Linked DNA regions of Homo sapiens. The protein of the gene in region 2 interacts with the protein of the main gene of each other region in a biochemical or structural test. Each region holds a gene or a part of one and is shown on either strand. Other genes may lie near its edges. The genes, in order: CRYAA and CRYBA1.

Evidence for each region.
Region 1: the proteins of CRYBA1 (region 2) and CRYAA form a complex in vitro, tested with the Homo sapiens proteins (2 studies listed by BioGRID).

What each region holds. Positions count from the first base shown.
Region 1 is NC_000021.9:43,161,721-43,174,036, forward strand, and holds CRYAA (alpha-crystallin A chain), read left to right. Parts: upstream 1-7,287; 5' UTR 7,288-7,379; coding exon 7,380-7,568; intron 7,569-8,515; exon of another isoform or gene 8,516-8,611; coding exon of another isoform or gene 8,612-8,689; intron 8,690-8,796; coding exon 8,797-8,919; intron 8,920-9,316; exon of another isoform or gene 9,317-9,862; intron 9,863-10,350; coding exon 10,351-10,560; 3' UTR 10,561-11,085; downstream 11,086-12,316. UniProt on the Homo sapiens protein: Contributes to the transparency and refractive index of the lens. In its oxidized form (absence of intramolecular disulfide bond), acts as a chaperone, preventing aggregation of various proteins under a wide range of stress conditions.
Region 2 is NC_000017.11:29,247,413-29,257,373, reverse strand, and holds the end of CRYBA1 (beta-crystallin A3), read right to left. Parts: intron 8,233-9,961; coding exon 8,168-8,232; intron 7,193-8,167; coding exon 7,074-7,192; intron 5,311-7,073; coding exon 5,169-5,310; intron 3,735-5,168; coding exon 3,592-3,734; intron 3,173-3,591; coding exon 3,025-3,172; 3' UTR 2,880-3,024; downstream 1-2,879. UniProt on the Homo sapiens protein: Crystallins are the dominant structural components of the vertebrate eye lens.

The DNA.
Region 1 (12,316 bases), on a different chromosome or scaffold from region 2:
ACCCCGGTGTGCCTGCGGGGCTGAGCTGTTTGCCTACCCCCATGCCCTCCCCAGGTGGCAGGCTACAAGACCAGCCTTGTTCTTGCCCTTCCCAGCCCTGGCCTGGGAGTCAGACACTTGACTCGTAGCCTTGACTTCCGTGCCAGGCTGCCTGGAGAGGCCAGCCTCTTCCCGGAGGGGTCCTTGGGGCCTACTGGGCAGACCTCTCTCTCCACGGCCCTTCCTGTCCCTAGGCGGACCTTTCCCTGACCCAGCTCACACCAGCCTGGGGCCTGTGTGCTGGGGCCGGGCTCCTGCAGGCTGTCCCGGGCAGGCGCCAGGGGGCCCTGTGCCACTGGGCGGTGGTGTGGGAGGCACAGGAAGAAGCTTACCTCACCCTTCAGACATCCTGGGGGGTACCCTTGTTTCCTATATCATTTCAACCTTGGGGTCCCAGCATTGCTGGCGACGAGGCCGGCTGCAGGTTTTGGCTCAGAGGCAGACTGAGGGCAGCGCCAAAGGGCTCCAGGCCTCCCGAAACAGCCTCGGTCTGCTCACACTTGGAGGGCTGTCAGAGGCCACTGGACGCCAGCAAGAAGGTTGAGGAGCCCCAGGCCGGCGGTGCCCCCAAGGTATCTGACACCAGAGTGAGTCACAGTTTTGAATATTCCATCCTCCATACCGCAAAATTATTTTCAGGATAGTTATGTAATAATCACGGATAATCATGATTTTCTTGATTCATTCTTTAAAGCAATTAACAGAAAAAGAATGCATTTCAATGTTAAAGATATTCAAATTCAGTGACTTCTTTCATGCATGAGCTAACATCTCAGCTTCAGCACCACATCTCCGTTTTCGCTCTGGTTTCACAGTCTCACATTTGAAACACAGAATAAAAACACCAAGAGGTCATGCAGAATGACAGAACTGAAATACTTCCAGCTCGGTTTCTTTGTGAGTGCTGTTGTTGTTATGTGAAATTTCTCGTTTAAGCACAGAAATATGTTGAACCACGGGCTGGAGATGAGAACCCCTCCCCCAGTGCACCTGCACCCGCCCTTCAAAGCCGCTCCAAGCCAATGCAGGTGGCTGCGTCTGCAGTGTCGGGAGTGGCCCCATGACTGGAAGTTCACTGGAAAATTTCCACTCAGTAAATGTTTAGAACAAGAAATAAAACTGTGCTAATGTGAAGATTACAGAAATATAGTCTATCCTCATGACTCATGCATTCCAGATTTGGGAATTCCCTGTGATGTCAGTGTGCCAGGGACCACAGACTGGATGGCTTAAACAACAGACATTTGTTGTCTCACAGTCCTGGAGCCTGGAAGTCCAAGATCGCAGGGTCGGTGGGGCCGGTTCCTTCCTGTGCTTGCAGACGGGCCTCTTCTTGTTGTGCCCTCATGTGGACTTTCCTCTGTGTGCATGTGTTCTTGGTGTCTCTTTTTGGAATTTGTCCAGATTTCCTCCTCTTTTTTTTTTTTTTTTTTAAGACAGAGTGAGACTCTGTCGCCAGGCAGGAGTGCAGTGGTGCAATCTCGGCTCACTGCAGCCTCCGTTTTCCGGGTTCAAGTGATTCTCCTGCCTCAGCCTCCCGAGTAGCTGGGACTACAGGTGCATGCCACCATGCCTGGCTATTTTTTTGTATTTTAGTAGAGACGGGGTTTCACCATGTTGTCCAGGCTGGTCTTGAACTCCTGACCTCGTGATCCACCCGCCTTGGCCTCCCAAAGTGTTGGGATTACAGGCGTGAGCCACCGCGCCCAGCTGATTTCCTCTTCTTATAAGGAAGCCAGTCACATGCATTAGGGCTCACCCAAATGACCTCCTTTTAACTTAATTTCCTGAGAGATCCTATCTCCAAATACAGTCACACTCTGAGGTCCTGGGGTTAGTACTTCAACACAGGAATTTTTTGGGAACTCAGTTCAGTCCATGACACCTACTTGGTCAAATTTATTTGTAGGCTGGGCACGGTGGCTCACGCCTGTAATCCCAGCACCTCTGGAGGCCAAGGTGGGAGGATCGCTTGAGCCTAGGAGTTCAAGACCAGCCTGGGCAACATAGCAAGCAAGACCCCGTCCCTACAAAAAAATTACCAAAAAAATTTATTTGTGACCCCAAATCAATAATTGCAGAGTTTTCCTGGTCATTCACAGATGTGTAGAGAGTGCCGAGACATTTGTCTCCTTACACATATTCCTGGGTGAGGTTGAACAAGGCAGCACTATGCCCTCTTGTTTCAGCCTCAGGCGGTCAACCAGTATCCTTTTTGAGGTCTATTTAGTGCCATGATTTTTGCATTTCGTGTGTTTTGTTTGTGATTTTGCTTTTTAAAACGTCCCCAAGCCCAGTGCTGAAGAGCTGTGTGCTTGGAGGCATTTTTAAGTAAGTGGATTAAGCACTTCAGTTAAAATGCAGAAATTGTCCAAACAGATTAAAAACATTATCTAATTATATGCTGTCTACAAGAGACACTTTAGATTCAAAGACACAAATAGTTTGAAAGTAAAAGATTTCTAAAAATATGCCATACAAATGGAAACCCAAAGACAGTTTTGGTTACTGTTTGGTTACTCTTCAGCTTTGTGCTTGGGGGCATTTTAAACAGCAAAATCACGAACAAAACACACAAAACTGCAAAAGGTAAGCAAGCTGCAGTGCATCTCACAGAGGAAACACGGGTTAGAGAAGCTTCCTTCGGGCAGAGCTACAGGGCTGCTGGCCATGAGTTCAGTGTTAGTGAATCAATGTTTATAGATTCAGTAAAGCATCTTTTTTTTTTTTTTCTTTTTTGGAACAGAGTCTCATTCTGTTGCCCAGTCTGAAGTGCAGTGGCACGATCTCAGCTCACTGCAACCTCCACCTCCTGGGTTCAAGCGATTCTCCTGCCTCAGCCTCCCAAGTAGCTGGGATTACAGGCCTGCACCATCACGCCTGGCTAATTTTAGTATTTTTAATAGAAATGGGGTTTCACCATTTTGGCTAGGCTGATCTTGAACTCCTGGCCTCAGGTGATACACCCGCCTTGGCCTCCCAAAGTGCTGGGATTACAGGCGTGAGCCACCACGCCTGGCCTCAGTAAAGCATCTGTACACAGAAACACTCATAAGACAAATGATGCATTGCTCAGCTGATGAGAACATTGGGGCCAGAGGCTCGCAGGACCCTAAGCCTGTGTCTCCCCTGGGAGCCATGGTTCAGCAGTCCAGGCATCACTAATTCAGTGCTCACAGCAGCTTTATAGAACACCCCTACCTCTAGAAACAACTGCTATGAATGCAGCAATTGCTAGAACTTAGCCCAGCAAAAGGGGATTTTGTGCTGACATGATTTGCATGGACAGTGGCTGGGAATCAGGAAAAGAACACTGACTTGTCTTTGGTTTCATTCTGGTTTTTCATTTTCCGCAGACATCATATCCCTCAGTGCACTGGCTGTCACCTCCCCCTGCCCGCCACCTGCACACTGTGGCTTTGAGGCAGCATCTTCAACACAAATTTCAGGAGGAGCCCAGGTCCAGAGCAAAAGGGTCTTGTTTCCCCAGAATCCAGGCGAATGGCGCAGGGCTCTGGCAGGCGGATGCACTGACATCAGCGTGCATTTACTTGTTTGTTGCTTGTCTCTACCCAAGAGAATATCAGCTCCAGAAAAGCAGGGACTTTGTTTAACACAGCGTTAAGAGACAGGACTCGACCAGTGTGGATCAATTAAGTGAGGATGTTTGCACAGCAGGCTCCGGGCCAGCGAGTGGGGGTTAAGGCTCCTGAAAGTAGCCGGCTTTGAGATGTGGTGGGGGTGATCCTGAATTATCCAGGTGGGCTGAGAGCGTAATTGCCAGGTGGATGTGATGGGAGAGACCTCACCGCCCACCACTGCCTTTGAAGGTGGAGGAGGGGCCACGAGCCAAGAAAGGCAGGTGCCTTGAGATGCCAGAGAAGGCAAGAAACAGACTCCCCTGAGCCTCCAGCAGGAGCCAGCCCTGCCAGTGTCTTGCTTTAAGTTGAATGAGACACATTTCAGACTTGTGGCCTCCAGAACTGTGAGAGAAGACGTTTGTGTTGTTTTAAGCCACTAAGTCTGTGATTGGTACATCAGCCACAAGACACTAATACAACACCTAAACTCGGGGTTTGAAAAGGCCCCTAGGGCCCTAGAGCCCTCCCTGCCCCCGGTCCAGGCCTTCCTGCTTCTGTTGTGCAGACTCAGGCGCTGGCTCACTCAGAAGCCCCCTGCAGGCCCGGCCAATCCTGTGGCAGAGCCTCGACGTCCCACGGCGGCCTCTGAGCCGCCAGGCCCTACAGCGTGTGGTGAGGGGCGCAAGAGGTGTGAGTGCCTGGACCTTGCTCTGCCCCGTGTCTGAGGACCTTGCCCTGCCCCGTGTCTGAGGACCTTGCCCCATCCTCGGCACCCAGAGCTGTGCAGTCCATAGGACCAGGCTGGTGCCCAGCCCCAGGTTGGTGCCTCAGCTGCCTCCTCAGCCTGCAGTCTCCACTGTTTGACTGACCATGTGCAGGGCCAGCTGTGAAGGACAGCACAGCTCCTCCCTCCCTGCCAAGTGTCAGGGGCACTAAAAACACTGCCATCAATGTTCTGATGTTTAAATCATGTTTTGATGCAATGTTTAAACAAATCAAAATGGGTCGGGCGCAGTGGCTCACGCCTGTAATCCCATCACTCTGGGAGGCCGAAGCGAGTGGATCACCAGAGATCAGGAGTTCGAGACCAGCCTGGCCAACACGGCGAAACCTCATCTCTACTAAAAATATAAAAATTAGCTGGGTGTAGTGGTGTGTGCCTGTAATCTCAGCTACTTGGGAGGCTGAGGCAGGAGAATCGTTTGAACCCGGGAGGCAGAGGTTGCAGTGAGCTGAGATTGTGCCACTGCACTCCAGCCTGGGCGACAGAGCGAGACTCCATCTCAAAAATAAATAAATAAAATAAATAAGTAAATCAAAATGAATGCAAAAAATTTGTGGTGGACAAACTGTCAACATTTTACATAAAGCCAGGATGAGGACGACGGCCTTCTCCTTTTGCTTCAAGCTCCAGCATGGCTCTGCCCAGCACTGACCGTGCTCCTGGCCTGGCTCGACCCTCCCCAGGGCCAAGCTCCATGCTGGTTTCCATCCCAAAGGACTCTTCTTCCCCCTCCCTGTGCCCCGGGAATAGGCAGCCAGCACAGTGGGGCCGCCCGCTGCCTCACCCAGACCCTGCCACTGCTTGGATGTTGACCCCCAGACTGGAAAGGTGGCTTTAAACCCCCTTCCCTTCTTCCAAGCCAAGTGACCTGGGCGTGCGGCTTAACCTTCTAAGCTCCCATTTCCTGGTCTATGAAGCGGGAATGATGCTGGGACCTGCTTCACAGGGTGGCTCTGAGGACCCACAGGCAGAGAGGTCTGGTGTAGGCTTTCGGGGGAAGCACCCATCACTCTCCCAGCGTTTCCTATCTGCACCTTAATTTGGCACCCCAGGGAATCGCTCCTCTGGAATTGTAACCTTGCAGGGCAAAAGCTATCATTTCAAGATTTTTTGGGATCCTGTGTCCCCGGACAGTGCTGTAAATGTAGGAGGAAGGGTGCTGCTCATGGGTGCTGCTCATGATGGAGGTGCCCCGTGGAGCACGCCTCGGAGCCCCCCCTTTCATCCCTGATCCCATCTGGGATGTGTCAGGTCTGATCCGCATACACTGGGGCATCTGACATTTCATGGCCTTCTGAGCCCATGGGCTGGAGATGAATTTGCAAAGCCCGGGAGTGTCCTGGGTGTGTGTTCACTCCACACGCACGAATCTGTTAGAGGCTGAGTAGGAACTAGGAGGCCAAAGAGAACCAGGCAACTTCCCACAGCCTGGACCGTACACTAGAAAAGCTAGCCTGGGAGAGGGGGCATGGCCTCTTCCCAGGCTGGCAGGGGGGATGTGGGGGAGGACCATGCTCCCCAGGGCCAGTTTACCAAAATATCAAAATACCAAAATATCAAAAGACTTAAAACTAGGAGTGAGCCAGGTGCAGTGGCTCACGCCTGTAATCCTACACTTTGAGAGGCCAAGGCAGGTGGGTCACCTGAGGTCAAGAGTTTGAGACCAGCCTGGCCAACACGGTGAAACCCTGTCTCTACTAAAAATACAAAAATAATAATAATAATAATAATAATAATAATTAGCCAGGTGTGGTGGCAGGCACCTGCAGTCTCAGCTACTCAGGAGGCTGAGGTGGGAGAATTGTTTGAACCTGGGAGGCAGAGGTTGCAGTGAGCTGAGATCGCGCCACTATATGATCTGGGCGCCACTCTGGGTGACACAGCAAGACTCCATCTCAAAAACAAACAAACAAAACCGGGAGTGCCTGGACACTTAGTGAGAACTGGACAGGGGCCATGGGTCGAGGAGCAAAATAATCACCAGGACTTGTGGATAACAGGATCATGTGGGTGGTGGGTCCGCATGGGTGACAGGGACGTGGGGACATGTCGCCACCCTGACAGGAGCAGCCCAACTCAACAGCCACGGCAGGTCATGCCACGGAGGCTCGAGGCGTTACGTGGGGATGTTACATCAAGGCATTACATCATTACGAGATGTAACGCTCGAGGCGTTACATCGAGGGGACGATGGCCATGGGGCTGGGCGTCCAGGGTGGGCCGCAGAGGGAAGCTCACCACGTGGTGCTCTCATCTGCCCACAGCCCAGCCCGTCTTCCTGTTGGAGGCATGTGACCCCTGGAGGACAAGCATGAAACGCCATAGGGCTCCCCCAGGTGCTGGAATTATGGCACCTTGCAGCTTCTTCTCCACGAGTTTTAACAAGCATGCGTACTTTTGTAAGTGGTGAGTGTAACGGAGGTTCACAGATGCACTCCGCTTTGGAAACCAGTGCACTCTTGCCCAGGCCCGGTGAGACTCTGAGGACGATGTGTCTAACCTCTGTGTCTAACGGGGGTGTGTGCTCTCCCTCCTCTGGCGACCATGAGGACCACCCCGGCAGGACAAGGTGTGCAGAGAACTAGCATGGTCCCTGGCACGTAGCCCCTGCCCAGTGACTGGCAGATGAGAAGCTCCATTGTCGCCCCAGGCGAGTATGGGGCACAGGCGCCTCCTTGGGTTGTCTGCCCTCCCGGGAGCCCCAGGGTGCCCAGGCGGGCCTCAGCTGAGTCCAGGCCTCGGGGACAGTCCGTGCAGCCCCTCCTGGGGCTGGGGGCGGGCACTTGTCCCAGCCACGTTTCTGCTGACTGAGCAGCCTTCTTCATGAGCTCACGCCTTTCCAGAGAAATCCCTTAATGCCTCCATTCTGCTGGTGGCATATATAGGGAGGGCTCGGCCTTGGCTCCACACTGCGCTGCCCAGAGGCCCCGCTGACTCCTGCCAGCCTCCAGGTCCCCGTGGTACCAAAGCTGAACATGGACGTGACCATCCAGCACCCCTGGTTCAAGCGCACCCTGGGGCCCTTCTACCCCAGCCGGCTGTTCGACCAGTTTTTCGGCGAGGGCCTTTTTGAGTATGACCTGCTGCCCTTCCTGTCGTCCACCATCAGCCCCTACTACCGCCAGTCCCTCTTCCGCACCGTGCTGGACTCCGGCATCTCTGAGGTAAGACGTGGCCCGTGGTGCTGGCCTCTCCTCGCTGCTCAGAGGGTGGTGGCCTCGGTGGGTGGAGAGCGATGGACTCTGGTCTTGCTCCGTCAGGCAGGTGGCCTCGTCCCACTTCATCCCCTTGCAGAGGCTGGGCGAGAGCCTGTGTCCCCACTGCAGCCACGTGGCAGAGCTTCCCCTGGCACTGGGGAGAGGGTGGACAAGGGAGCAGCCTGAATCCACCTTTGCTTTCCTCCATCAGCTCATGACCCATGTGTGCTTTGTAAGGCACCAGCCACATACTGGAAACCCCAAGAGCAGCCCATCCAGGCATGCGTGGTGGCGAATGCCAGCTCCCGGGTTCCTCTGGTCTCCTGAGTCCCGGAGACCTGGGAGCAGGTGGGGGTCATAGTCCTGAAAGCCAGAGAGCAGGGCGTTCCTAGCACCTCCTCCAATGAGCTCGGCCTGCCCACGGCTAGCAAAGCTCTTGGCAAGTTTACTTAGGTGCCCTGCCAAGGCTAAAAGGACAGGCAATGGACGCCCCCCCCCCCACCCAACCACAGGCCTCCTCTCTGAGCCACGGGTGAGCGGTGCAGGTTCTGCTGTTCTGGAGGGCCTGAGTCCCACCCAGCACCTCATAAACAGGGTCCTCCCCAGGGCTGCTGCAGTAGGCATCAACGCCAGGGTGCAAAATGCCTCAGGGAGCCAAGGCTGAGCCAGGGGAGTGAGAAGGAGCATGTGGAAGTGCGTTTTGGAGAGGCAGCTGCGCAGGCTGTCAGCAGGCTCCGGCCGCTTCTATAGACAGCATGACACCAAGGGCAGTGACCTCATTCCACAGGCTGAGTCCAGCCAGCCAGCCAAGCATCACCAGCCAGACGATTGACCCTAACGGACCAACCAACCCGTAACGACCCCTCCTACCATAACCAGTAGCCAGCCAGCCCATAACCAGCCAACTTATCTATAACCAGCCACCTGACCATAGCCAAACAACCAGCCGGCCCACCAGTAGCATTCAGCCCCTCAGCTGGCCCTGAGGGTTTGGAGACAGGTCGAGGGTCATGCCTGTCTGTCCAGGAGACAGTCACAGGCCCCCGAAAGCTCTGCCCCACTTGGTGTGTGGGAGAAGAGGCCGGCAGGTGACCGAAGCATCTCTGTTCTGATAACCGGGACCCGCCCTGTCTCTGCCAACCCCAGCAGGGACGGCACCCTCTGGGCAGCTCCACATGGCACGTTTGGATTTCAGGTTCGATCCGACCGGGACAAGTTCGTCATCTTCCTCGATGTGAAGCACTTCTCCCCGGAGGACCTCACCGTGAAGGTGCAGGACGACTTTGTGGAGATCCACGGAAAGCACAACGAGCGCCAGGTGAGCCCAGGCACTGAGAGGTGGGAGAGGGGGGCGAGTTGGGCGCGAGGACAAGGGGGTCACGGCGGGCACGACCGGGCCTGCACACCTGCACCATGCCTTCAACCCTGGGAGAGGGACGCTCTCCAGGGGACCCCGAATCAGGCCTGGCTTTTCCCCAAGGGAGGGGCCGTGCCCACCTGAGCACAGCCAGCCCCTCCCGGTGACAGAGGTCACCATTCCCGAGCTAATGTGGCTCAGGGATCCAGGTTAGGGTCCCTTCCCGGGCTGCACCCAGCCGTCGCCAGCTCCATCCCTGTCACCTGGATGCCAGGGTGGTCTTAGAAAGAACCCCAGGAAGTGGGAGTGCCCCGGGTGGCCGCCTCCTAGCCAGTGTACATCTTCACATGAACCCTACCTGAGGAAGCCAGTCCCCGACGGCATAGCTGCATCCGCTTGGAATGCTTTACAGGCATTGACACCTTCGCCTCACAGCAGCACTTTGGAACCAGTGTCCTCATTATTCCAGGGCACGGCTGGGGAACAAGGGGGTCCTCAGCCTGCTGGGTCCCACAGCTAGTACCGGGCAGGTGGACGGGAGCTTCTCCCCACAGTCACCCTGATGCCCCGCTCTTGCTCGGCTGGAGGCCTCGGATCTCCGTGGTGTTGAGGGAGCCGGGGCACTGGAGCCCTGGTGACCTGCATCTCCTGGCGGAGCCGGGAAGAGCTCATGGACTGTCACAGATGGACAGTGCCCCGCGGGGGCTGGAGAGCAGAGTGGGGCTGGAAGGTGGAACTCTTAGCCAAAGTCTTGGTTTCTTTTGGCCAGGGTCCTCTTTCAATGGCTGGAGAAGGTGGTGCTGGGGGGTGAACGCTGACCTCCTCATGTGCTGCCCCTCCCTCGCCTGGGCCCGGTAAAGCCCCCACGTAGCCCCAGCCAGCCTGGAACATGCTTCCTGAGCTCCCAGCTCTTGGTCTTTGCACCCAGTGGAGGAGGAGGTCAGCCCAGGGAGCTGAGTCTGCGGTTTAGGGCGTCCAGGGGACGTGGAAGCATGTGGGTCGTCTGGCCACATTAGGTAGGGCTGCAGAGACCTGGGCTAGAGCAGTCCTGCGGGGTCTGGAAGGGGAAGACTGGCTGAGGTGCGGGGCCTGGTCTGGAATGATCCTGCGATTTTGGAGTGAAGCCATGGAGCGGGAAGAGACAACCCCCCGCGGGGAATAGCCCGGCAAGTGGCCACGAGGCCAGGCTGAGGTCCAGAGAAGCAGGGGCATGAATCCATAAATCCCAGGGGGCCTGGCCATGGGATGTGCTGGCTGCACCCGGCCCCTGTGAGAGCCCCCGCAGGCTGGCCCCCTTCTGCAGTCAGTGGGGCTGGGGCAGCTTCTCTGGCATGGGGCGAGGCAGCCGCCTGCACAGTGGCCCCCCTGACTGTGCGCCCCCACCCTCTCCAGGACGACCACGGCTACATTTCCCGTGAGTTCCACCGCCGCTACCGCCTGCCGTCCAACGTGGACCAGTCGGCCCTCTCTTGCTCCCTGTCTGCCGATGGCATGCTGACCTTCTGTGGCCCCAAGATCCAGACTGGCCTGGATGCCACCCACGCCGAGCGAGCCATCCCCGTGTCGCGGGAGGAGAAGCCCACCTCGGCTCCCTCGTCCTAAGCAGGCATTGCCTCGGCTGGCTCCCCTGCAGCCCTGGCCCATCATGGGGGGAGCACCCTGAGGGCGGGGTGTCTGTCTTCCTTTGCTTCCCTTTTTTCCTTTCCACCTTCTCACATGGAATGAGGGTTTGAGAGAGCAGCCAGGAGAGCTTAGGGTCTCAGGGTGTCCCAGACCCCGACACCGGCCAGTGGCGGAAGTGACCGCACCTCACACTCCTTTAGATAGCAGCCTGGCTCCCCTGGGGTGCAGGCGCCTCAACTCTGCTGAGGGTCCAGAAGGAGGGGGTGACCTCCGGCCAGGTGCCTCCTGACACACCTGCAGCCTCCCTCCGCGGCGGGCCCTGCCCACACCTCCTGGGGCGCGTGAGGCCCGTGGGGCCGGGGCTTCTGTGCACCTGGGCTCTCGCGGCCTCTTCTCTCAGACCGTCTTCCTCCAACCCCTCTATGTAGTGCCGCTCTTGGGGACATGGGTCGCCCATGAGAGCGCAGCCCGCGGCAATCAATAAACAGCAGGTGATACAAGCAACCCGCCGTCTGCTGGTGCTGTCTCCATCAGGGGCGCGAGGGGCAGGAGGGCGGCGCCGGGAGGGAGGACAGCGGGGTCTCCTGCTCGCGTTGGACCCGGTGGCCTCGGAACGATGGGGTCGCCTGCGTCCCTTCCTTCTCCTGAGCTCAAGCGCCTCCCTCCACACTGGGCTGGAAGGAGAGGTTTTGGGGGCAGAGCCTCTGATGGGAAAGGGACTGGGGAGCACTTCCGAGAGCTGGGGGCGGGGAGGGACCTGGAAGGGGCTGCAGGGAATGGAGGGAGGCCGGGCTCCTTTCTCTGTCCGCGCCGGCACCGGGGCGGGACGCCAGCCCTGGCCTCCTTCTGCGGGGCCGTCCGGTTCTCTCGGGGTCTGCTGGGTCGTCCTGTTCTCTCGGGGGTCCTGCTGCCTTCGGGGCTGGGCTTTAAGGGCACTCGTGCTTTTGAGGAGGTGGAACTCGGCAGCTTCCCCTGGGCAACCCATCATGGCCCCGAGCTGGAGGCGGAAGCTCGCTCTGTCCCCTCCCGGGACCAGACACTGGGCGGCCATGCCAGACCCCGCCACGGGGAGGGAGACTCGGCCTGGGGGGCCCTGGCTGCCTGCTGCGCTCACCGAGGGGCATCCGGGGGGCCAGAGGGCACCCAAGGGGAAGCAGACGCCACGGCGGGTGGGCCCTGCCAGCGCCCTCAGCCAAGTAAAGCGCCCTCGACCCCGGAGGCCGAAGGCACCGGGACCCTGAGGCACTGGGACCCCCATGGCACCAGCAGGACGACCACAGGGGCGCAGCCTCCACCCGGGAGAACACAGACACTGACACCAACGGGTTTTCAAAAAGTCAGCAACAGGCATTAGCGTGGGCGGCCATAGTGACGCCCAGTGACATCACGTGCCACGGACACTGAACAGCACACACACCACACACTCCACACACACACACCACACACTCCACACACAACACACTCCACACACACCACAGACACACACACACCCCTCAACACACCATGCCCTTTGTCTCTCTTTGTATTCCTCTGGCCAGGCCGTGGTGTGACGGGTTCTGAGTCCTGGGAGTGGCTCCCCTAGACTCCCCCCCTCCTCCTCCCTCCAGCAGGACCTGCCCGGCTGTTGTGCCATCGAGTCCCCATTTGTACAGAAGGGGGTGCCCTGTGGTTGGCAACAACATGACCCACTGTGCTTTGGGGCTGCGGCTGGATGTTTTTGAAAATCGGGGTGTCT
Region 2 (9,961 bases):
AGTAGATGAATAAAGCTATGCACATGTTTTGAAAGTTTAATTTGTGTGTCATTACCAAAAGTGACCGATTTGTCCTTACTACTTTGCTGTTGTTAGCTTTACCATCTTTGGAAACTTGGCTCAAAGTTACATAGTTCTGGGCTAGCTCATCAGTGGAACTAGGAGAGAGGAAAACTGGCACCTATTTTAATAAAGTTCAATTTAAACGAGAGCTTGACTTGTATCTATTAAAGAGCTTTTCTTGAAACAGGGCAGTTTTATCAGCTTTACAAATCATTGGATGCTCTTCCTTAGTAATATTTTGGTTTATTTGATCAAATAGAAATGGAAAGTAATTCAAACTGAAAGACCCTTTTTTGTCATATGGAACTTGGTGACGATTTTTTGTCTTAAAGCTGGTTTAAAGGTAGGATAGGCTTTTACCTTTATTGCTTTAGCATAAATTTGGTTTACTGAATTGACTGGCTTGAGATTAGAATTATTCAGTTGTTTGTAAGATCAAAGCACTGGTTGTTTTAAAGATAACGTGTATCTTTTAAAAAATTGCCCAAGCTGATTAGAACAAGTTTAGGAGTTGGGTACATTTGGTTCAAGTGCTGCAATCTGTATGTACTAAATAGCTTTACTTTGTGTATGTGTACTTATAATGTGTAGATGTACTACTACCCAGGTTTTGTCAAATCATCTTTTTTAAAGTTTTTTTTTTTTTAATTGGTTCAGGACCTTTGTAGGAGAGGCTAATATGTTTAAGTAGAAGATATTACTGATAGCATTTTCCCCATGCTCCTACATAAAAAATAAATATTTCCATTTTATAGCTTTTTCAATATACAGAAGAGGGTTACTTCTTCATCAAGTATATTGTTGCCTTTGAGGACACAGCAAAACCCTTCTATATGTATCTTCATTGATAGTGGCAGTTAAAAACTAAGTTATCCAGTTAAGACTTAAAAGGTGACCCATATTAATTGCATGGCCTTAAAAGGCAGAAATGCAGGAGTGTAGCAAGCATCATTTTAGATGGCTATGGTTCCTCTTCCGCATCTGTCAGTAGTTCACTTATGTTCAGTCTTAGAACCTACTGGAGGAGTGAAGTAATTTCTCTGTCTCGTGCAGAGGCACTAAGGAGCTGAGTTACCTCTTAATCTGGGGGAATGGATAATAAGTGGAGTACAGTTATGTTAAAGGATGTTCCCCCCGCTCAAAAAAAAGTTTCAATGTTTGTTTTGCCCAGTCAAAAATATAGGTCTTTTCTACATATAAGAACAGTCACCAGAAATTTTCCCTTTTGCTAAATGCTTAGGTATTTGCTATAGCTGTTTCTGATGTCATGGATTCTGAGGAAGTGTCATTTACGTGATGATCTTCCTTTATTGATGTCTTCATCATGTTCAGTGTTTTAAAAATATAAATTACAAACACTCTACAACCATACCCAGATTTACTTATTTTATCAGAAAAAAAACTTGAGAAATTTGTAGATCAAATTGAGAGACAATAAGTGTACATTGTTGAATAAAAAATTTTAAAGTTTCTGAGGTGTTTGTTATCTTTTGTGTGCTTTAATTTTTTAAAAAGTCTTTACTGACTAATCTTAAATTCAGCTGATAAAAAGTAAAAAGAAAAACAAACCGAAAACTAAGTTTGTGACATTGATAATGATTTTTTTCCAAAGGGTCAAATATGTGAAGAATTTAAGTCTTCAGTATACTATGGTCCTATGATTTTAAAAAAATTTTTTAATCATACAGGTTTTTACAGTGCTTAGAATTAGCTTGCTTATTGAAAAATCCAGAGCTATCCTGCCTTTTTGCAGGACATTAAGCCTTATGCCCTTCCAATTGAAATAAATCAAAATTGAGCTAAGCAGTTGAGCAACTAGAATGTTAAGTTGCCAAGATTCTGGATTTATTCATAACTTTATGTTGAAATATGTGGCAGTACACACTGGAGAAACTTCCTGTTTCTTTAGTACTGATTTGTCACAAGGTGAAAGGAAAATCAATGCCAACTTCAACATTATTAGAAAGAGCAGGAGACGGGAGGAAAGGACATAAAAACATTTACCAAAAGTGTCAGTCGCTATAGAGATTGATAACATTTAGGTCATATGCTTTATTGTTCTTTGAGATAAGGAATAATTGTCCTTGGCCTGGTGAGTGACTTGCAAGGACACAAAAGAGAATGTGGAGTTTTATGGAAGCTTGACTTAAAAAATTCTCATCCAGACAGGCGCAGTGGCTCAACACCTGTAATCCCAGCACTTTGGGAAGCCACAGTGGGTGGATCACTTGAGCCCAAGAATTCGAGACCAGCCTGGGCAACATAGTGAGACCTCATCTCTACAAAAAGTACAAAAATTAGCCAGGCATAGTGGCAGGCACCTGTAGTCCCAACTACTCAGGAGGCTGAGGCAGGATCACTTGAGCCCAGGAGAATGACGCTGCAGTAAGCCAGATCGCACCACTGCACTTCAGCCTGGGTGACAGTGAGACCCTGTCTCAACAACAACAAAAATTCTCATCCACAGGCCGGGCGTGGTGGCTCACGCCGGTAATCCCGCACTTCGGGAGGCCGAGGCGGGCAGATCACCTAAGGTCGGGAGTTCGAGACCAGCCTGACCAACATGGAGAAACCCCGTCTCTACTAAAAATACAAAATTAGCCAGGTGTGGTGGTGCATGCCTGTAATCCCAGCTACTCGGGAGGCTGAGGCAGAGAATCACTTGAACCCGGGAGGCGAAGGTTGTGGTGAACCAAGATAGCGCCATTACACTCCAGCCTGAGCAACAAGAGCAAAATAACTAAAAAAAAAAAAAAAATTCTCATCCACTTAGGTGTGATTTATGTGAAGCATGGTAGTTAATTCAGTCTACAAAGTTTTTTTTTTTTAAATGACGTTTATTGTGGATTTCAGCAGCTAACATTTGAAAGCAATGTCTGTGAGCAGAACATAAAACTTATTCTAGAGTGCTTAGCAAGGTCTCATGCTTGAGGAATTATCGTACTTGGAGCTTTTAATCAGCTACTGTTGGATTCGGCGAATCGATTGGATCTGCGAAGTCTGGGCATGAGAGCCCCACTCTCTCCAATGTTTATAGTCTCCTCCATGATGGTCACATTCCAAGATATACTGATACCCACGATATCCAGGATATTGGTAGCAAACCCAGCTAGGAAATTCAAAGTACATTTCATTATTAAAACTAATTAGGAATCTGGTTAATACCCCAAAACCTGAGCCTCTTTACTCAACACAATGGTATGAGATGCTTTTAGGCTTAGAAAAAATAGCCATCCTAAATGTGTCAGGCACTATTTGTAAGCATAATATGGCTATAGCTAGTTAATTAGCCTTAATCATCAAAACAGGTATAAGTAGTCAACGTAAATTCTTCCATAGAGGCATGTCTGGGGGAGATAAATCTGCAACCTAAAGTGGTAGTTGGTATAAAGAAATTGAGATTCAAAATTATGTAGAACTAGAATGTGACATCTATACCGATACGTATGAAATCTGATTAAAACATAACTATTGATGCAACCTCAGGAGTTACTTTGAAGTATATTCCAACCCTGTTTTTGTACTTACGCCCCACTTTGTATCTTCATGGAGCCGACTTCGTTGTTGAACCAGCCCATGGCTTGCAAGGAGGGGTAGTCGTCAGAGATCTCCCACTGGCGTCCAATAAAGTTTTCCTTCTCAAAGATGGTCATCTTAGACTCCTTATGATTCTGTAATTCAGAAATTGTTTTAAAATGTTTAGTACTAGTGCTATGGCTATCATTCTTCATGTTTTTCAAAATTGAAACACTTTTGGATTATACAAGGAAGCACATGATAATTTAAAAAGATTAAGGCAACAGATTTGTGAGAAAAAAGTTACCCATAATTTTGTTTATTCCAATTTAAATACCATAACATTTTGAATGTACAAATAACTGATATACTATTTTGGAACAATGAAGAGGATTTGACAGTGAGAAAAAGTACTAACAAAATGCAGCCAACCAAGGGATTAATATTCACTAATGTGAAAAAAGATCTCACAGATTATTACAAAAAGTAAGCCCAAATATGTATGTGTGCGCTTGCGTGTGTATGTGTGTTGTTGGATATAACCTGTATGTCCAGTAGGGGACATGAATACTACACAAGCATTAAAAAGACAGAGACTAACCTGTATGAACTTCAAAAATGGACAAAACTGTTTGGTAATAGAAAGTGGTAGGGGAGCAATTGAGTGGAAAGGGACACCAGGGAACTATGATGGAATGTTCTTTATATGGTTAGGGTGTTGGTTACATGGATCTATATATTTTTCAAAAACTCATGAGAATATTCACTTAGGGTCTGTGCATTTTACTGTATGTCAGTTATACCTTAGGGTGGGCAAATGAAATGTTTTTAAAAGTGAGATTGAAATAATTTCCAGACAGGCAACTATTTATTTGGATTAGAACTATTTAGGTTAACTTCTCCACCAGTTGAATTTTGGCAAGACTTTGAACCAAGATGAGATTATTAACCAAAATCACGAGAAACTCTCACATAGACTGAATATTTGGAAAGGTTCTAGCCCAACCTAACTCCTAATACAGGGATCATTTTCAACACACCCCTTAAGGTCATTCTGCTTTCTGCTTGAACTGTTTCCAAAGACCAGAAACATCCCAGCCTGATGCATTATTGAGTAATACTTAAGTGTTCAGAACAAGAAGATTATTATCAATCAGTGTAGATCGATACTGGAAGACTTGCCTATTTCGTCAGTCATTCCCACTTACTGAAAGGTTACTTCAGCATTTTCCTGTTTCTGCAGTAAAAATGTTACACAGATTGAAATTTAACTGGCCAAGGATTTACTTTTTGCTGCAGGGTAAGCACTTTCACTCATTTACTAGTGTTTCACAAGTTTACTGGGCTCTTGAGTATCCACTTATTGCCACTTGTAAGACCCTTAGTTTTAGCTTAAGGGAAGTACCACCTGGTGGAGAAAAATCAAATAGCAGGCTTAGAGAAGAAAGTGATGTTTTCTCTTTTTTTACTTTTGTCTTTTTTCCTGCCACATTCAGCATAACTGATGATAAATAGCATGAACGTCAGTCTGTCCACACCCTCTTGTCCCATCCCTCATATGCACGGAAGTGGAAATTTCAGAGACTCACAGCTGAACAGATGGGGCGGAAGGACATGAGACGCTCAATGTGGTAGGCATTACTCCCACTCCAGGCATCCCAGCGAGGGTATTCTCCTCTCTCCAGGATAAACTGTTGCCCACAGAAGCTGGTATGCTCATAACCAATCCAGCTGCCAAAGACATGTAGTGTTTGTTCATGGTGTTCAAAGCCTATATGGCCTTGGGGAGAAGGCATCTTTCGTTTTAGATAAGTCAATAGTGGGGTAAAATATCAAGCCAATCCCAGTAGAGCTGTACAAAGTAATTTGTCACAAGAGTTGAGGAATGAGTTGACAGGTATACTAAGCAGGTTAGTGAATGTAATATTTGTTTGGGGGTTATCACTGAAAAGGTCTATCTACTTCACTGGTCTGAGTGAAGTGTATTAGCAAAGCCAATCTAAAATTATATTTCCTGGCTGGGTGTGGTGTCTCACGCCTGTAGTTCCAACGCTTCAGGAGGCCAAGGCAAGCAGATCGCTTGAGCCCATGAGTTGGAGACCAGCCTGGGAAACATGGCGAAACCCCGTCTACAAAACTCAAAAATTAGCCAGGCGTGGTGACCCACTACTGGCAGTCCCAGCTATTCAGGGGGCTGAGGGTTGAGCCTTGGAGGTGGAGGCTGCAGTGAGCCATGATTGTGCCACTGCACTCCAGCCTGGGCAACAGAGTGACACCTTGCCTCAAAAAAAAAAAAAATTTTTTTTTCTTTTTCTCCAAATCACCTATTCTCTACCTGTTTCAGGATCTAGTGACTGTTGCAAGCTTGTCCAACCTGTTGCCCAAGGGCTGCATGCAGCTCAGGACAGCTTTGAACGCAGCCCAACACAAATTTGTAAACTTCCTCAAAACATTATGAGTTGTTTTTGTTGTTGTTAGGTCATCAGCTATCGTTATGGTATTTTATATGTGGCCCAAGACAATTCTTTCAGTGTGGCCTAGGGAAGCCAAAAAGATTAGACACCCCTGGACTATTGCTTTGGCTCAAGCCAAACCTGTTGGCTTCTTCTTAAGAAAGCACAGGGATGAACAAGCAACTGATGGATTACTAGTCTTTTTTCTTCCTGTGACTTGCGAGTTCTTTCTCCTAGTGCCCCATACCTGTACTTAAAACTTGAAACACTCAGCTCAGTTTTTCACAACTGGGTCTCAGTTAGTGATGACACCTTAAAGTGTTACATCTTTTAAAGGACTGAAGAGCTTAATTTTGGTGGCAAGCAACTTGTGGAAGCCTATCCACATGCAAGGCCAATTCTGCCTAGTCAAGGGTGAGTCTTTTCCTTAGGTATTTTCAGGCTAATGATAAAGGCCTCAACTACTCTGCCAAGAGTCAGAGGACAAAAATGAGAGGGTCTCCCTCACCAAGATTAACCATCAACAAGAAACTGCCTGAAAGATGAATCAGGAGCTAATATGTCTCTGGAGTCGTGGGGTTAAGGTTTTTTTTTTCATAAAGAAATTAGCTAACAGTGTCTGCTCTGGGATATGCAGGAGGAGAGTTAGCCATGAAGAGGCAGCCACTTGACACTTTCTTCTCTACCAATTTTCTGCAGGCAAGAAAAACTCAAGGGTCTTGTGGCTGTTCTGAGGGCACCCTAGGTAGCAGCCTGTGAGCTCCAGAAGCAAAATTTTGATTACTGCCACTGTCCCACCCCATTGTATGTATTTCTTTATCCAGCCCCTGAAATCTAGTACCAAGCCACTAAGAACCTCATGTTCCTTCCTTCTAGCTTTGGCTTACTAAATTATGCATGTAGTGATTTCTTTCGAGGCCTGTCTCCGAGAAATGACTAGAGCCTAGGGGAACATCCTTCTTCCCCTATCCCCACTCTATGGTCCCCTGTCTGAAGGGACCTGAAATAAGGGGCTGCGGTTCTGCGGAAGTCCATACTCACGCGCCACTTTCCACCTTCAGGGACCGGACATTATCAAAACTGCGCTCAGAGACATTTGGACAGGAGCTGGTGAACTCCATCCTCTTGCCCTGAAAGTTCTCCTGATCATAGATGGTTATCTGAAATGAGATTGAATGGCGCAAGAGAGCTAGAACATCAGGAAAAACAGAGGTCCAGGTCAACAGCTTAACTTCAGTCTGACTCTGTGCTTTCTGTTACCAGCTGTAGCCTGGGATGCCTGATGAGGTCTCTTCCAGTGTAGACAGGGCAGGAAGGGGTTTGAATTAATGCCACTGGTTGGTGTTCATTTGCCCAGAGTAGGGATGAGGTGGAGGGAGGATTGGTTTATGATAGAAATGGTCTGCCAGGGATAATATCTAGACCAATGGACAGGCCAAGGACTTATGGGCTCCCATTCCACCACAGTTCCTTCATAAGCATGGCCCAGAGGCCAGGATTCTGGGAGTCCCAGGAGCTCCTTATAGATTCTTAGCTTCTCCAGCCATACCCCCTATAGAAACCTAGAGTGTAAAGGAGAGTTATGGTCAACCCTTTTTGTACATTGAACTAAAACCTGGCTCGTGGACCTGGCCAGAGGACCACTCGCAAAGCTGTGAGCTGGCCTCAGAGTTGACCCAATGAGGAGAGTGGGGAGTGTTGGAGAGAGGCCAGTGAGAGGCCTGAGGATCAGCCACTTCGGCCAATGGTTAAAGCCAACCTCAGGATGGGAGGCTGAGTCCTGTAATTTATTTGGGATCTAGTAGTAAATATCTTTATGGGCCCTCATTTTCTCCATGGACATAACTGTTGCTGGGCTGCTGTATTTTAAGATGACTTTAGTGGGGAGGAGAGAGGAGTTAGGAAACTAGGTATCATCTCCCACCCATCAATGGCATCCACAGTCATCCTTCCTTTGTCCAGTGGGACATCCTGAGAGATCCTTCCTTCGACAGCACTGGAGCTTGTGTGGACCTTTCCCCTACAAACTGGGGTTTTTCTGGTCAGTCACTGCCTTATGGACGAGCACAGGCCTGGGGCCTGCTCTGTGCAGCATGTCACCCCTGCCCTGTTGGATGTGATGGGGGTGGGCTTACCTTCCATGGCCCCAGGGACCCCGGCGTAGGGTTGGTCTGAGCCATCTTGGTGGTTGGAAGGGTTTCTGGAAGACAGAGCACACACGAATGATGTGGCCTCTTGGGAGGAGGGGGAGGTGAGGGAATGCCTTGAAAGGTAAAGGAGACTTGAAGTCTGCAAGACAGACTTTGGTTGAAATTCTGGCTCTGCTGCTCACTAGCTGTGCCTCGGGGTTTGTTGTTGTTGTTGTTGCTATTTTGAGACAGGGTCTTTCTCTGTCATCCAGGCTGGAGTGCAGTGGCACAATCTCACTTCACTGCAACCTCTGCCTCCTGGGCTCAAGTGATCCTTCCGCCTCAGCCTCCCATGTAGCTGGGACTACAGGCATGCACCACTATGTCCAGCTAGTTTTTGTATTTTTAGTAGAGATGGGGGTTTCACCATGTTGGCCAGGCTGGTCCCAAACTCCTGACCTCAAGTGATCCACCGCGCCCAGCCTGAGCCTCAGTTTTTCCATTGGTAAAGCTTCGACATGCAGTTATTGTAAGGATCAGAAATAATAGGCCGGGCACGGTGGTTCACGCCTGTAATCCCAGCACTTTGGGAGGCCAAAGCGGGCGGATCACCTGAGGTCGGGAGTTTGAGACCAGCCTGGCCAACGTGGTGAAACCCCGTCTCTACTAAAAATACAAAAATTAGCCGGGTATGATGGCACACGCCTGTAGTCCCAGCTACTCGGGAGGCTGAGGCAGGAGAATCGCTTGAACCCGGGAGGCAGAGGTTGCAGTGAGCTGAGATCGTGCCACTGCACTCCAGCTTGGGCAACAGAGTGAGACTCCATCTCAAAAAAAAAAAAAAGAAAAAAAACAAGGATCAGAAACAATAATGCAGGTAAAGCACTGAGACCCTGTCCTCTCACTTGCTTTCAGGTGACAGCATTACCTCTGTCTGCAATATAAACTCTTTGGCAACCACCTAGGCCAGACCCCTCATGTGACTGGCCAAACAGCCAGCCATGCCAGGATCCCAAGCCCCAGACTCCCTCGTAACCCTTCACGGTCTCATCCTTATCTGGCCTCTTTCTGCTTTTCTTTTTCTTTTTTTTTTTTTGAGATAGAGTTTCACTCTTGTTGCCCAGGCTGGAGTGCAATGGCGCAATCTCGGCTCACCGCAACCTCCGCCTCCCAGGTTCAAGCGATTCTCCTGTCTCAGCCTCCCTAGTAGCTGGGATTACAGGCATGTGCCACCACGCCCGGCTAATTTTGTATTTTTAGTAGAGACGGGGTTTCTCCCTGTTGGTCAGGCTGGTCTTGAACTCCCGACCTCAGGTGATCTGCCCGCCTTGGCCTCCCAAAGTGCTGCGATTACAGGCATGAGCCACGGCGCCTGGCCATTCCTTTCTGCTTTTCTATCTCCTAGATCCTACCCAGCCTTGACCTTGCCTTCTCAGAGGCTTTCCTGCCTTCTCCAGCCCACAGCCACTTGCTTGCTTTCTTGATTTATAGCACTCATCACAGTACCAATCTGTGTTCTGGTTGGATGTCCTGGTGAGCACCTCAATGGCAAGGCCTCGGTCTTCTAGGGGATTGGTATAGCATCGTGCTGAGCACATGTGGAGATGAGGGATCAGGGGGACATTGAAAAAGACTTATTGAAGGAAAGTGAAGAAGAAAAGAGTTATAATACTTACACTCAAAAATGGCTATCTACATGTCCGGCCCTGTTTTAAATGCTTTACATGCATTCATGCATTTAATCTTCACATACAGACTATGAATTAAGAATTATCATTATCCCCATTTTACAGATGAGGA